Homo sapiens: one gene and its partners. The protein of the gene in region 1 purifies or fractionates together with the protein of each later gene. This does not show direct contact. Each region holds a gene or a part of one and is shown in the gene's direction. Other genes may lie near its edges.

Evidence for each region.
Region 2: the proteins of DTWD2 (region 1) and ZNG1F purify together in Homo sapiens (affinity purification with mass spectrometry; one large-scale study listed by BioGRID and IntAct). This does not show direct contact.
Region 3: the proteins of DTWD2 (region 1) and ZNG1A purify together in Homo sapiens (affinity purification with mass spectrometry; 3 studies listed by BioGRID and IntAct, with this or other methods). This does not show direct contact.
Region 4: the proteins of DTWD2 (region 1) and MFAP3 purify together in Homo sapiens (affinity purification with mass spectrometry; 3 studies listed by BioGRID and IntAct, with this or other methods). This does not show direct contact.

Annotation. Positions count from the first base shown.
Region 1 is NC_000005.10:118,985,748-118,989,966, reverse strand, and holds the start of DTWD2 (tRNA-uridine aminocarboxypropyltransferase 2), read left to right. Parts: upstream 1-1,419; 5' UTR 1,420-1,455; coding exon 1,456-1,673; intron 1,674-1,746; exon of another isoform or gene 1,747-1,817; coding exon of another isoform or gene 1,818-1,837; intron 1,838-4,219.
Region 2 is NC_000009.12:41,179,318-41,182,817, reverse strand, and holds part of ZNG1F (zinc-regulated GTPase metalloprotein activator 1F), read left to right. Parts: intron 1-351; coding exon 352-443; intron 444-3,500. UniProt on the Homo sapiens protein: Zinc chaperone that directly transfers zinc cofactor to target metalloproteins, thereby activating them.
Region 3 is NC_000009.12:148,057-151,556, reverse strand, and holds part of ZNG1A (zinc-regulated GTPase metalloprotein activator 1A), read left to right. Parts: intron 1-129; exon of another isoform or gene 130-252; intron 253-831; coding exon of another isoform or gene 832-850; exon of another isoform or gene 851-3,500. UniProt on the Homo sapiens protein: Zinc chaperone that directly transfers zinc cofactor to target metalloproteins, thereby activating them.
Region 4 is NC_000005.10:154,041,967-154,045,466, forward strand, and holds part of MFAP3 (microfibril-associated glycoprotein 3 isoform 1 precursor), read left to right. Parts: intron 1-3,500. UniProt on the Homo sapiens protein: Component of the elastin-associated microfibrils.

The DNA of each region.
Region 1 (4,219 bases):
ATCATCTGTCTTCTCACACCACACAATTGGGAGTCTCAAGGGACCTTAGAGGACTTGAGCACATTTCACCTCTTGAAATTAAAGATGAGCAGCTTCCTTTCGTTTAAAGATAAGTCACATGAGAATTTAATTTTGGCAGTTAAAGAATTGGTTCCCCAACCTAAATCTACAGACAAGATGAATTTTCTGATTCATCTCCTTTCCTACAGTTTCTGGATTTTGTTTATCCTCCGATTCCAAATGGCATAATTGCTAGTTCTTTCTCCCACTCTACGTCCATCACCAGGTGGGTGTTTCAGCCTTTTTCTATCCCTCACATAGGACGCTCCAAAGGAAAAGAGAGGTGCTGTTTCCGGGGGGAAAGAACGTAGGATAGTTGAAAACAGCACGGTATTTTATTCACAAACTTGATTTTAAGATGACTGAAAAATCTAATGTGAAATAAACATTTTAAGAAATACAGTATTTGCTCTATTACTGTGTTGTCTACTTTGCCTCACATTTAATCTATTACAACTATAGAGTTAAGACAACTGTGATTCCTAAGCTTAATTCACATGATTGATCAAAACCAAGCTTAATTCTGTTTTAATGTTGTGTATTGCTGGAAGTAACACAAAGCATTAATAAACAAAAGGAATTCGATACCCATTTTGGGTAAATAGTATTTCTGCCTTCATTCTAACATAGATTTCATTTTGGCTTTTAAAAAACAGCTGCTGTGCTATATACCGCCGTATCCAGTAGTTGTTAAATACCTGGGCAACGTTACCTTTCTAGGGCTTGTTTCCTCATACATAAAACCTATTGGTACCCCGGGCCAGCTCTCCTATTGCTTCCTGATCGGGGACGATCTAAAAATCTAATTTAACAAATATCTGGTGTCCAGTGTAAAATAGCATGCTTGATGTCTTATTAGCACAAGACATAGAAGAGCAGGAAATTCACATAAGGAAACGGACCAGCTGTGAGTAGTTCCCAGTGGATATAACCTCTCCTTTGTTGGCCTTTAAATAATAAGTGCATCAGCTGCCGCACCTGCGATGCATGCACGCGTGGAAATCCTGCAAATTCTTAAACTGCCATCCCAAGGCGGAAAATGCAGAATTCCATTTTATTTTAACTTTTAAAGGAGTTAAATTCGGGCTTGGTACTGGGGTCCTCTCGGGGAGGTTTCCCTTACCTCTCCCAATGACGCTACTTAACCTCACCAGCACTCCAACACTGCCCACACTTGCCTACCCAGTTCTAGGTGAACGGTCCCACTGGGCACGGACCAATGGGCTCGTTCCTTCCCAGCGGCAGGGTGGGACCTCCAGCCTGGGCTTCGGAGACCCGCCCCCCGTACGTGGCGTGCGGGCATTGCGCTACGCGGCGCGGGCCGGTTTCTACAGCGCGTGGCGCCCCCCGGCGGCAGCCGGGCTTCAATGCCACGGCCTGACCGGAGTGTCCGCCATGGAGTCGCAGAAAGAGGCACGAACACTCCAGGAGCCCGTTGCGCGGCCTTCTGGGGCCTCAAGCTCTCAGACGCCGAACGACAAGGAGCGGCGGGAGGGCGGCGCAGTGCCGGCGGCGGCTGCCCTGGGCGCAGAGGCGGACGACGACAGTGCGGACGGGCTGTGGGAGCTGCCGGTGGAGCCGGCCGAGCGGAGGCCTGAGTGCACCCGCTGCAGGTGACCGCGGGGCTGGGGGCGGGGACTGCAGCCGGCAGCGGCCTTCGGAGGAGGGTGCGGCGCCCCCTGCCGGGGAGTCGGCGGCTCGGGCAGCTCTGCGATTAGGGCGGCGGAGTTGGCGGGTGCACGTTGGAAATCTCGGAAATGCCAGGCACAGCTACCTAGTAAGAAGCCCTTTTTCCAGGTTCATGATTATCTAACCTTACTTCCTGCAATATGCTGAGCGTATCATGGGATGAGCAGACATCAGTTCTGTTTCCAAGAAACTTAAGCGTCCAATAGGGGAAGTAAGGGGTGATGACAGTAATACTTGTAAAATAGTTACACAGTCATATTTAAGTGGCATAGTTATATCACAGTTAAAAAGCATAAAGTGGATTGGAGGAGAGAGACAGTCTCCTTTACCTATCCTACCAGAACTCTAAATATAGGGCCTTTTCAGGTGTTCATTCTAGGTTCTCTTCAAACCCTACATACGTCCCACTGGTAATTTATAAAATCAGTTTTCATGGTAAATTATCATCTATATCCCAGTGTGTCTAGCTCAGACCTTTCTTCGGAACACCAGACCTGTGCATTAATTTATCAGGTGTTTATTGAGTGCTTTGGTAATCACTGACAATGCAGTGGAGTTCATGTTTTTGTAGAGTATTCTCTTACTGGATACGGATAATAAACCAGCAAACAAGCAATCAAATATGTAATTACAAACTGGGAAAAAAGCAGTGAAGGAAAGGAATGGGTTGCTACTGTAGAAAATAGCTCAATGGTGTCATGAACTATCTCTGAGATTTGAAAGATGAGAAGAATCCAGCCAGGGGAAAAGCATTCCAAGAAGGGGAACAGAAGGACTGAATATGGTTGAAGATCTTTACTGCTTGAATACTTGGAGTATCACACTTTGGACATTTTGACCTTTTCCTAGGGCTGGATTGTAAGACTTCAGAGGAAAGGATCTTGAATGTAGAATGTTTTTATATTTTCTAAATGTACTATGTATAGTTGACGCTCAGTAAACCTCTGAGGAGGATGGAAAATTTGTGATTAGAAGGGACTGTGAATTTGAACATAGGGGTTTGTGAATACAATTAATTTAAACAAGTCGTCTGAGGGGGTTGGGGAAGCATTTAAAAATGTTTGGAGGGGTCTCAATAGGATACTGGAGGAAAAGTGTTTCAAATATAAATCAAAGGCTAAATTACTGTGCTAGTTTTATTTAGTTTTTAGTCTGTTCAGAATTGTTAATTATAAATATATAGGTAAAAATCTGTTTAGCAGAGATTTATTTTATGATGCTTTTTTAAAAAAATGGCTTGCTGAATTTAATCTTTTTTTCAGTTACGTTTAGTTAATACCTTAGGATTACAATTTTCCCCAACATTTCTGCACTTTGCTTATTTCTGGTGAAATTTGCTACCTGTGAAAAGCTCTCCTCCCTCTTGCTATGCATTTTATTTGCTTTAATTAGGTAGACTATAATTCTACACTTTGCTTATTTCTTGTGAAATTTGCTACCTGTGAAAAGCTCTCCTCCCTCTTGCTATGCATTTTATTTGCTTTAACTAGGTAGAATATAATTCTAGAATTATGGAGAATATTTAGGTGTTGTCAATAAAATATAAATGAATTGATGGCTTTTTATATTTTATTTCATTATGCTATTAGAGTTCTACTAGTACCCTGGGTGAACTTCTTTACATTTATGGTTAAAATAGTTTTAAAAATGCATTCTTAGATTTGATTGATCATTGAGTCACAGTTATTTGGCTATTTACTTAAACTGTATTCATTTCTCTGAACACATTACTACAAATGTCACAGCCTAGGGGAGTTCCAGAAATTAGCTTTGTTCAGGAAGTGCAAACTCAGTTTAACTTTTCAGCAGAATCTTGCTCATTATAAATATAACATATCTTAAATATGAATGGAATATTCTTTAAAAGATCCCAAACTTGTAATTTATTATTGCAAGATATAGATTCTATAAATGTATTCTGTCCTTTATGTATGTCTTGTTTACAAAACCTGCCTGTATTCCATTTACCTCTTAGAATACCTTTCCTATCCCCCATTCCCAAACGTATATAATTTTTTTTTTCAGATAAAGACAAAACCTTGGCTGATCTCCCCAGAGTATGTATCATTAGCATTATTTGAGATAACATAAGAAGGCTGAGGGTCATGGGACATGGTAGGTGCACAAAAGATTTGTTGAACTACTTGGTAAAATTCAGTTGTTCAACAAATATTTTTGGAGACCCTTCTTCCAGACGGTGTGATAGGCTATGAAATACAAAGATGAAAAAGAGATGACTTCAGTTCTCCTGAATATCAGGATCTAGTGGAAAGTGGCATATCTATTTAAATGGGGAGCCCTCAGATTAAAAATCCTATGATGTAGGGCAGTTTTTTCAAATTATAGGTAATGAACCGCATCAAATTTTTGAAGCTCTGAAGAAAACAGCAAAAAGTGTTTTCTGAACTTTTCAAAGTAAAAGTATTTGTAAAATAACTTTGTTCAAGTTAAAATCATCTTGCTAATTTAA
Region 2 (3,500 bases), on another chromosome or scaffold:
TATTAAACTACTATAGTTAATAAATTTTATCATTATTTTGTATGTTGGTTTTTAAAAATTTCATAAAGCTATAAAAAGATACTTGGTCAGATAAAGTTTCCTCTGCTTTTAATTTTAATAAAGTATTATTATGTATATGATTTCTTTTTACCTATTATATATATGCATCTATTGTTTTCTCACTGGTAAATATGGGACAGACATTTTGTTAGAAGGTTAGAAGTGAGTTAAATTTTCACATTCCTAAGGATACTTTTGTCTCGGGTTGTTGAATACATTTTAAAGTGTTTATAATAATCACTTCAAAATATTTAGGTAATTAACTGTAAATTATGTTTTGGTATTCTCCAGGGACAATGGCCTTAGAGCTATTGAGAATTTGATGCAAAAGAAGGGGAAATTTGATGACATACTGTTAGAGACCACTGGATTAGCAGACCCTGGTAAGAAGTGAGATTATTAATAACCAGAATATAGTTCTGTGATATATTGTAAATAGATGTATTAGAGGAATATCTAAAATGAGTATTAAAGCTTTTGTTAGTATTAAACCAAAAACTTTTTTTGGTTTAAAAGAGGAAAAGTACTTGGTTGTCATTTTCTTTGGCAGTTGAATGAATGATCAGAGTATTTCTTGGTGCTTTTAAGCTGTTAATAGAATTTGAAGTTTTATTGATTGACTTAGGATTATTTGTAAGAACAGAAGTTGTTAAAAATAAGGACATGTAGGAAGAGCAGAGACGTTCTACCTCTAAGTACAGTTGTCCCTTGGCATCCATGGCGTATTAGTTCCAGAACCTCTGAGGATACCAAAATCTATTAATGTTCAAGTCCCTTACATAAAATGGTGTAGTATTTGCCTATAACCTATGCACATCCTCCCATATACTTTAAATCATCTGTAGATTACTTATAATACCTAATACAATGTAAGTGCTGTGTAAGTAGTTATTATACTGCATTGATAAGGTAATCATGACAAGAAACTCTAAACTCTACTATGGAAAGCTACACAGAGTCAACCTGTTTCTCACAATGGGTTTCTGTTACCTTCTTACCAAGCTCTAATTCTTGATAAAGTCTGCTTATTTTCCCCAAATAACTTTTAGATAAAATCTTTATTTTCAGTTTGCATAAAAGTTAGTGCTTATTCTGTGAATCTGACCCATACCATTATTTTCTTTTTGATCTGGGTCTCTGGCATTGGGGCGATTTGTAAAACTATATTAAAGTATTTGGGGGTAATTTACTAAACAGGTCATAGTTGTCCAAAAGAAATATTGAAGTATCCTGAGAGTTCAAATGTGATCAGTGGTTATTGTACTTAAAACAATTACGTAGTAACATCATCCCCATGTTTTCAAAGTAGTATTGAATTAGGCTATTTTGGTCCTTATAGTAGGCATGGGTTTTCATACCTTTCTGATAAATCTGACTGATGATAGGACTTGGACTAATATGTTGGCGTTAAATATTATTTGAATCTGGTAAGAAAGAATATATTGTATGCTTTTATTAGAAATAGCAAATATCAGTTTATTTCATCATAGCCAGTTTTGCCATTTTATAGACAAAAACTTGATACTTTTGAGAGTTTAATTAAACACGATTCAGCTTTTCAGAGGAAGAAAGAAAAACTAAAGATCACAGAGAAAGCTTTTATACAAATTGTAGTTATAAAAAATGTTAATGTTTCTTGCTTCTAACTTTCTTTACAATAAAGATTTTATTGTTTGGGTAAAGATGGAACATTCATTGTAAAAAAATTTAAATACCTAAAAAATACAAAGAAGAAAGTTGAAAAGTAATCATCTCACTATTGTGATATACAAGTAAGGGCTGGGCATGGTGGCTCATGCCTGTAATCCCAGCACTTTGGGAGGCTGAGGCAGGTGGATCCCTTGAGGCCAGGAGTTCAAGACCAGCCTAGCCAACATGGTGAAATCCAGTCTCTACTGAAAATTCAAAAACTAGCCAGGCGTTGTGGCGCACCCCATAATCCCAGCTACTCAGGAGGCTAAGGCATGAGAATCGCTTGAAAGCTGGGAGGCGGAGGTTATGGTGAGCCGAGATCACGCCACTGCACTCCAGCCCAGGCAACAGAGCAAGACTGTATACACACACACGCACATGCACACGCACACACACACACACACATTCATACACACACACACAAGTAGGTAAATTTTATTCCAGGGATCTCTCTATGCCAGTGCTACTTGGTAGTATGTTGAATGGCAGCCTCAGCCTCAGCTGGGAGCTTGTTAGAAATGCAAATTCTTGACCAACCCAGATCTACTGAATCGGAATCTCTAAGGGAGGGGGTCAAGCAAGCTGTTTTTAATAAGCCCTTCAGGTGATTCTTATACTGTACAGCCATACCGCAGGGATATTGTGGGCTTAGTTCCATATCACTGCAGTAAACTGAATATCACAATAGAGTGAGTCACACACATTTTTTTGTTTCCCATTGCATATAAAAGTTATGCGTTTTGGCCGGGTGTGATGTGACAGGCCTGTAGTCCCAGCTACTTGGATCACTTGAGCTCAGGAGTTTGAGGCTGCAGTGAGTCATGATTGCACCACTGCACTCCAGCCTGGATGACAGCATGAGACCCCATTTCTTAAAAAAAAAAAAAAAAAAAAAAAGCTGTGTTTATACTATACTGTAGTCTATAAAATGTGTAATAGAATTGTCTAAAAAACATACATACCTTAATTAAAAATATTTATTGCTAAAAAATGCTAACGATCATCTCAGCTTTCAGCAAGTCATAATCTTTTTGCTGGTAGAGGGTCTTGCCACAATGTTGATGGGTGCTGACCAATCAGGGTAGTAGTTACTGAAGGTTGGGGTGGCTATCGCAATTTCATAAGATAATAATGAAGTTTGCTGCATTAGTTGACTCTCCCTTTCATAAAATATGTCTCTATAGCACATGATGCTATTTGATAGCATTTTACCCACAGTATGACTTCTTTCAAAATTGGAGTCAGTCCTCTCAAACCCTGCTTTATCAATTAAGCTTCTGTCATATTTTAAATCCTTTGTTGTCATTTTGACAGTGTTCATAGCATCTTCACCAGGAGTAGATTCCATCTCAAGAAACCACGTTCTTTTCCCGTCCATAAGAAACAACTTCTCATTAGTTAAAGTTTTCTTATGAGATTGCAGGAATTGAGTCACATCTTCAGACTCCCCTTCTAATTCTAGTTCTCTTACTGTTTCCACCATATCTGCAGTTATTTCCTCCGTTGAAGTCTGAAATCCCTCAAAGTCATCTGTGAGGGCTGGAATCATCTTTCAAACTCCTATTCATGTTGATACTTTGATCTCCCATGAATCACGAATGTTCTTAATGGCATCTAGAATGATGAATCCTTTCCAGAAGGTTTTCAATTTACTTTGCCTAGATCCATCAGAGGAATCACTATCTATGGTAGCTATAGCCTTATGAAATATATTTCTTAAATAAGACTTAAAAGTCAAAGTTACTCCT
Region 3 (3,500 bases), on another chromosome or scaffold:
TGTGAAGTGTATTTCTGTAGATTAAATTCTGTTTTCCATTGAATGTTATCTTAATTTCAGAAAATTTCTGTGCAGGGTTATTTTATTAAGCTCATTTTTTTTTTTTTTTTTTTTTTTTTGGTGAGAAAGGCTCAGCAGCTAATAGACTCAGCAACAGGCAGCCAGGAGCTCTGAGGCTCACAGCTGGCAGTCTAGTTCCACTCAGTCTCTACTGGAGAAATTCTTTCTTTGGAAGTACAGCAGAGGCCTTAGGTGAGTGGCTTGTCTGCTATGGCAGAGATTAGAGGTGCTGCCAGACTGCCATAAGTGTTAGGCAGTAACAGCAGCAGCTGCTTATATGCATGTGAACAGCTGGGGAATTAATTTGGTATGCATTCTCAGGAGCCACTCATCTGCTGGCAGAGGTAGCAGAAGAATGCCCTTAGTGTAAGTCCTCTACAACCATACACCAAATGTGCTCCCTGCATTTCAAATTCCATTGTAGAAAGTCTCTGATAATCTCACTTATACTATGAGCCATTCCTCAGTATCTGTCCTCTTCCTGTTAGTGTTCTACAATTCCTTTCTCCTTAATTTTTCTCCGCTTTACAAAATGTCACACAGACAAGTGCATAATACTTAAACAAGCTTTTAAAAATAATGCTCATAAATAGCTTTGGTTCTGTCATAATATTCGTATTTATAAACATTTTAAGTCAATTCTCTTCTTTTGTTTTCATTTCAGAAATATCCATGTCCTGAATAAAAGTTGTGTCTTGATTAGTTTATTATGTAACAATTTAGTGTGTTTGACATTTCTAACTTTTATTTCTAACATTTGCTTTATTATAGAACAATAAACATGCAGTGATTGATTTTTCTTACTTCAAGTGGATGAGTGAGCAAGTGACTAAAATCTTCTGTGAATTATTCAGTGTATGGTGCTTGCCAGTGCATCTGAGAATCTAGGGACTTTCTGAAATAGTACTTCCTTGCTATGAGGACTGAAGTTGCATTAGAATCCTTTTCAATGAAGATCAGATGTCCTGAGTACAATTCTTACTATTGGGTCCTGAATCTTACATTAAATATTCTCTCAAATTCCTTGAGGCATAGCAACTTGAGCTTACCAGTTTAGAAACTGGAGATTTGGGCTGGGCGCGGTGGCTCACGCCTGTAATCCCAGCACTTTGGGAGGCCAAGGTGGGTGGATCACGAGGTCAGGAGATGGAGACCATCCTGGCTAACACTGTGAAACCCCGTCTCTACTGAAAATACAAAAAATTAGCTGAGCCTGGTGGTGGGCGCCTGTAGTCCCAGCTACTCAGGAGGCTGAGGCAGGAGAATGGCGTGAACCCGGGAGGCGGAGCTTGCAGTGAGCTGAGATCGCACCACTGCACTCCAGCCTGGGTGACAGAGCGAGACTCTGTCTCAAAAAAAAAAAAAAAAAAAAAAACAAAACCGGAGATTTGGTTAACAAAATAGTCAAAGTCACTCTTATAGAAGTTTTGTTTTATTTTTTGTTTAAAATTTTTTTACCATTTTGTAGCTGACAAGTACTGACAATAAACTGCTATAAGCATGTGTAGAAAAAGGCTCACCTTGAGTAGTTAAGAGTAAGGAAAAGGAATAGTGTGTAGCATCGTCTTAGTGGTAAGACTTAAGTTGATTTAGTAGCAAATGGAAGTACTAGTGAACCACATAGATTTCAGAAGTAGGAGTAAAAGGTTAGAAGATGTGTCATTTTAATCTTCTCTAGACTTTTTCTTAATTTTTAGAAATGTAAGTGGACTGAACAGAGGAAAACCAAAACACAGCTGGTCAATAATAAGTTAAATTAATTTGACAAACTGCCTACTATGCATTTCATAGCATTTTAAGGACTATATAAGCAATGGATAAGGCAAAAACTCTGCCTTTAAGGAGATCAGTCATTGGGGGGAAACAGAAGCAAACAAACAAAAAGGCAACATAATAGATATTAATATTAATACAAGAATTTTAAAAGCACAGAGTTCTATAATAATAGGAAAATAGAGGGAATGATTGCTCAACTTTTCTTGAAAAAGAGTCAGGAAAATATTGACCGAGAAGACAGTCATTGACCTGAGTCTTAAAGAATGAATAAGGCTTTTACAGATGGAGTAGGGTAGGGATAACTTTCCAGGTATAAGGAAGATTTTGTATTCCAGGGACCTTTGAATTTTTTAGAATGGCTAGAAAACTTGGTATTATGTAGCACAGAAAAAGTGGTATGACTGAAGAGATAGAGAACTTACCACAAAGGGTCTTGAATGCCATGATACATAGTTTGGATTTTCTTCTGTAGGGAGCAAGGAGTTAGTGAAGGATTTTAAAAGCAACATGCCTCTTGGGAGGTAGATTCAATGTGAGGCTAATCTCCGAGGTATAGGAAATACAGGAAGGAGGAGCAACAGGTCGGGTAGTGGTGGAAGCAGGTTTGGAAAATGTGATTAGTTTTGTAAGCGTTTTTGAGTTTGAAGTGCCACTGGGGAAGGCTTTTGGAAATTTATTTCCAGAGTTCAAGACTGAGCTATCATTGCAGTTTGCTCAGCTATTTACTGAGCTATCTACTGTCAATTTGGATAGTATCTACAGTTTGCATTGTAGATACTGGATACTTGGATTGGCTGGTGCACCCTGTTTGTGAGACTCACTGGAGTTTGAAGAGATGACCACTGGAAAATATCCCTAAGCAGTAGCTGCAATTCCACCCCCACCTTGGAGAGCCAAAACCCTCTTCATTTTCACTCTCCTGTCCTTGGTCTTAGGCTACTTAAAGCAGCCTTTAGACATAGGGAAAAATTGAAAGCCTCTCTTTTAAGAAAAACATTAGGTACTTCTGGAATAGAGAGTTCAAGAAATTAGGAGAAAAATGAACTTTTGAAGCTTTTTCTTTCCCTTTTTTGTTTACTTCATTCTCTTACTCAGTTTTAAAATGCTGGTAATGGTCTTTTTTTTCTTTTTTTTTTTTTCTTGGCGATTTTAATGCTTTGGAAAAGATCTCATGGTTTTATCTCCAAAGGAGGAAATTAATTTGATGCCATGGAAATTAGTTTTCTAGTCGTATGCCTTGAATGAGTGAAGAATTTGTTTTTCATGGTGGTACTAAATTTGGGGAAAGCTATAGAAACTTTCATCTGGAAGCTTACACTTTTCCTCTTTTTTGAAAATTTGGTGAGAGACTTGGATATTTTATTGTTTTCTGTAAAAGAGTGTAATTTGTTGTACAGGTCTAATATTGATCCTTTTTTGGAAGTATGGAAAGAATCTGAGTATAAAGCAGAATTACCTCTGGATGGCATGTATTCTCAAGGACACTGTCACAGTGAAACAGTTTATTTAGAAGCTTGTGTTTCCAAAGTGTTGAATTTGATATTCACAAAATTGGCATGTGTAAACTTTATTAAACTTTAAGCTATTTCCTAAGATGAAGATGACAAACTTGGAGGGAAACTTCATTCATTTGGTTTATTTTTATTTTTATTTTTATTTATTTT
Region 4 (3,500 bases), about 35 Mb from region 1:
GAAAACTAAGGCCTTGCAAGCCTATGGCTTCACCCAGGGGTAGGATCAGGCACCTTAACTCTAGAGCCCATTCTCCTAACCACTGAGCCATGATTGTCTTACAATTTTGATACTGCAAAACTGGAAGAATTGTCTGGCTATTATCTAAGCTGTTCATAAGCTGAACAAGTAGATCTGAGGGTAAGAGGAGTTCTGTTTTAACTAGACTGAGTTTCAAATAGAGATGTTTCAGACTATAGAGGGGGAAAAATGGCCTGGGAAGATCATAAATCTAAGCCTGTTTCATTGATGTTTTTGTCATTTGCATCCAGTAGCTATTCAGCAAATATACCTATGGCAAAAAGGATATAAGTTATGGGTATAACTGAAATAATCCTGGGTTTAAAGCAAAGCTCTGATAAATACAGACGATGTTTCTCCAGGTGCCAGAAGATATGTTGAAGTTTGAGCTCAGACTGACCAAATGCTAGTTATGGGGTATGTGATAGCTCCAAGGTAGTAATATAAAGGCTATTTTAATTAGAAACTTTTGAGTAAATGGCCCTCAGGATAGTGATTTCTGTTTGAATGTCACTAACCTTTTTTAGTTACAGATCCCTATAATAATGCTTGAGTCTAGGCAGAACAACTTTGTGTTTATTCTTTGCAAAGGGTAGGGTAGTGCTAACAACCTGCTCTTCATTTGCTTTTTCTCCCCTTTGCCGATTCAGAATGCTGCTTTGTCAATTTGTGTGCCTGCTGTAGGAACTGGTCCGTTTTCCAAGTGTGACAGTGCAGGCAGAGAAGGGTGGATGAGCTGTAAATGCAGCCTAGAACACATTTGATTATAGAGAATGAAGCACTAATATCCCAATATAATTGGAGTTTAAAAAAAAAAAATACCACCTGGGCATCAATGTGTTTCCCTGCTTTGCATTTTCCCAGAACTATTTCTGCAAACATCAGTTTCCTCAGCCAACTTAATATTGAGTCACCAGAACGGAAATCAGCCATATTACTTCCTTATTTGTGTTGAAAATTGGAACAGAATGGAAATATTTCTTCCCTCAGAAGTTGGCAGGAACGGCAACAAGACAATCTGTTAGGGGTGACAGCTATAGGCTCTTCTCTTTTTTAAAAATAATATAGTCAATATTCAACATGGTTTTCTGGGGTAAAATCATCCACATTTCTGATTCTTTATGATCCTAGCAAAGCTTACATTCTGTATACCTGAAAGATGAAAAAGGAGTTGGATTAAACTTGAGTCTTACACTTATCTATTACATTTTTATTTATTAATGCTGAAGAAAGGTAATATAGGCTGGGCGCGGTGGCTCACGCCTGTAATCCCAGCACTTTGGGAGGCCGAGGCAGCCAGATCACCTGAGGTTGGGAGTTCAAGATCAGCCTGTCCAACATGGAGAAACCCCGTCTCTACTAAAAATACAAAAAATTAGCCAGGCGTGGTGGTGCATGCCTGTAATCCCAGTTACTTGCGAGGCTGAGGTGGGAGAATCGCTTGAACCTGGGGGGTGGAGGTTGCAGTGAGCCGAGATCTCACCATTGCGCTCCAGCCTGGGCAACAAGAGCGAAACTCCGTCACACACACACACACACACAAAAAGGAAAGGTAATAAAAAATTTTATCAAGTAACTTCATCCACAAACATAGTATAGCCCTTTTTAACTGATAAGAAGAAGGTGACACTTTGGTTTTCCTTTTTGAAATCTGTTCTTGGGTTTCAAATGTCAGCTGCTACATTAAAAACAGCAGGCATAATATATATATATATATTTTTTTTTCCAAATACAAATGCACGTACTCTTGTGTCTCCCATGGCATCTAATATACCTGCCTTAATGACCTCAGCCCACTTAACTGATTTGGTGAACAATTCTGCATCTGAGGCTGTATATGTGAGGAAAAATTAAAGGATTGGAAATGAAAGTAAAATAACTATAGTATAAAGGATCATATGTTCAAAGCATGCAGGCCTAATATTATAGGAAGTCCCAAACATATAAGTGAATTGCATTCCTAGAACTGACACATTTGTCTTTTCTCTGTTGCATTCACAATATAATTACATTTCAGTCACATTGTCTTAGATACAGTTGGCTGTTTCTGGGCTGTCTTTCAAGCTGGTTTGTAAATTCCTGAGGGTCTAGGACAGTGTCCTAATTCTCCTTAGCAACTCTTGCACCACCTACTGTACTTCATCTTCCACGATGGATCCTTGACCTAGCTGAGCTGTAGTTTTAAAGTCATTAGTCTAGAATGAGCAGAATGGTCATAGTCAATGCAGTTTGTGCTGCAAGTAGCAGAAACCCATTCAAGCTGACTTAGCAAAAAGGAGACTTAGTGTGAGGAAATAATAGTACCCTGATACCAAGGATGATTTGTTCTTCCCTCACTATTTTTTTCTGCTTTGTCACCTTCTTGGACACGTATCTTTGCCAGTGTTTTCTCTCACAGCTGCTGAACAGCCTGTTACCTGCAAATGGGTTATATCCGTTAGTCTTTCAAATCAGAAGTCCTCTGTGTTCAGGATGTACATGGTATGAGTGAAGTGCCCAGTATTAACTGGATGTGTAAGGCTATTGTGCAGCCTCTTTCTCTTGTGGCTCAAAATCAGTGTGCCAGGTTTCTTCTGCCATGTTTGGCCTAAGAGCAGTTTAAGGGAGTTTATAGTGTTTTCCTAAATCCTGTCTGGTAGGTAGAGGCAAATGGCTATGTCTGTACAACACAAGAACCACAAATCTTGGCCACATGGGCAGTTTGCTTGCCACACTCCACTGTGTAAGGAAGAGACTAGAGATCTATGATGAAGATTGCCTGGCAGCCACAGACACAGTTCAATAACTTTTTGTGAACTTAATCTTTTTTCTCCTGCCTAACCATTTCCGCATTTATTACGTGTTTGCACATTCATCTTCACTTTTGTGGTTTTAATTTTGAGTAAAATTTAATAAAGTTGTTTCTTTTTTTAAAAAAAAAAAAGGGTCACAGGAGTGCCAGGAAGTAGAATTCTATCAGGCACCAAAGCACCATGTATGAGTCTCTCTTTGTCTTTCTCCTGCTCCTCTTCCTGTCTTCCCACTCTCTCCCTTCCCCATCCCTCTTGTCCTTTCTTACAGCTTCTCCTTGTATGTGGCCCAAACCTGACTGCCTCAGCCCCCACATGCCTCCTTTTCCTCAAATGACCCTGACCCACAAGGGTCTCAATTCCAAGTTCCAAGAACAAAGATTCTATTAGCTTACTTTGCCAATAGGTTGTCTTCCTCCTAGACCCAAGAAGATAGGGATAGGGCTCAAAGAGGGGAGCCGTTGGGTAAGTAGATCACGACAAATCTTCTCTACCACAAACTGAGGACACATACAATGTCATATCATGGTTGGGATCCAAGCTCAGTTTACAATGCCTATATGCTCCATAATATTGCAAAATATTTGCAATGAGAAAAAGAAAAATGTGAAATTTTAAATTTAAGATTAAAACTGCATAATGGTGTCCCCT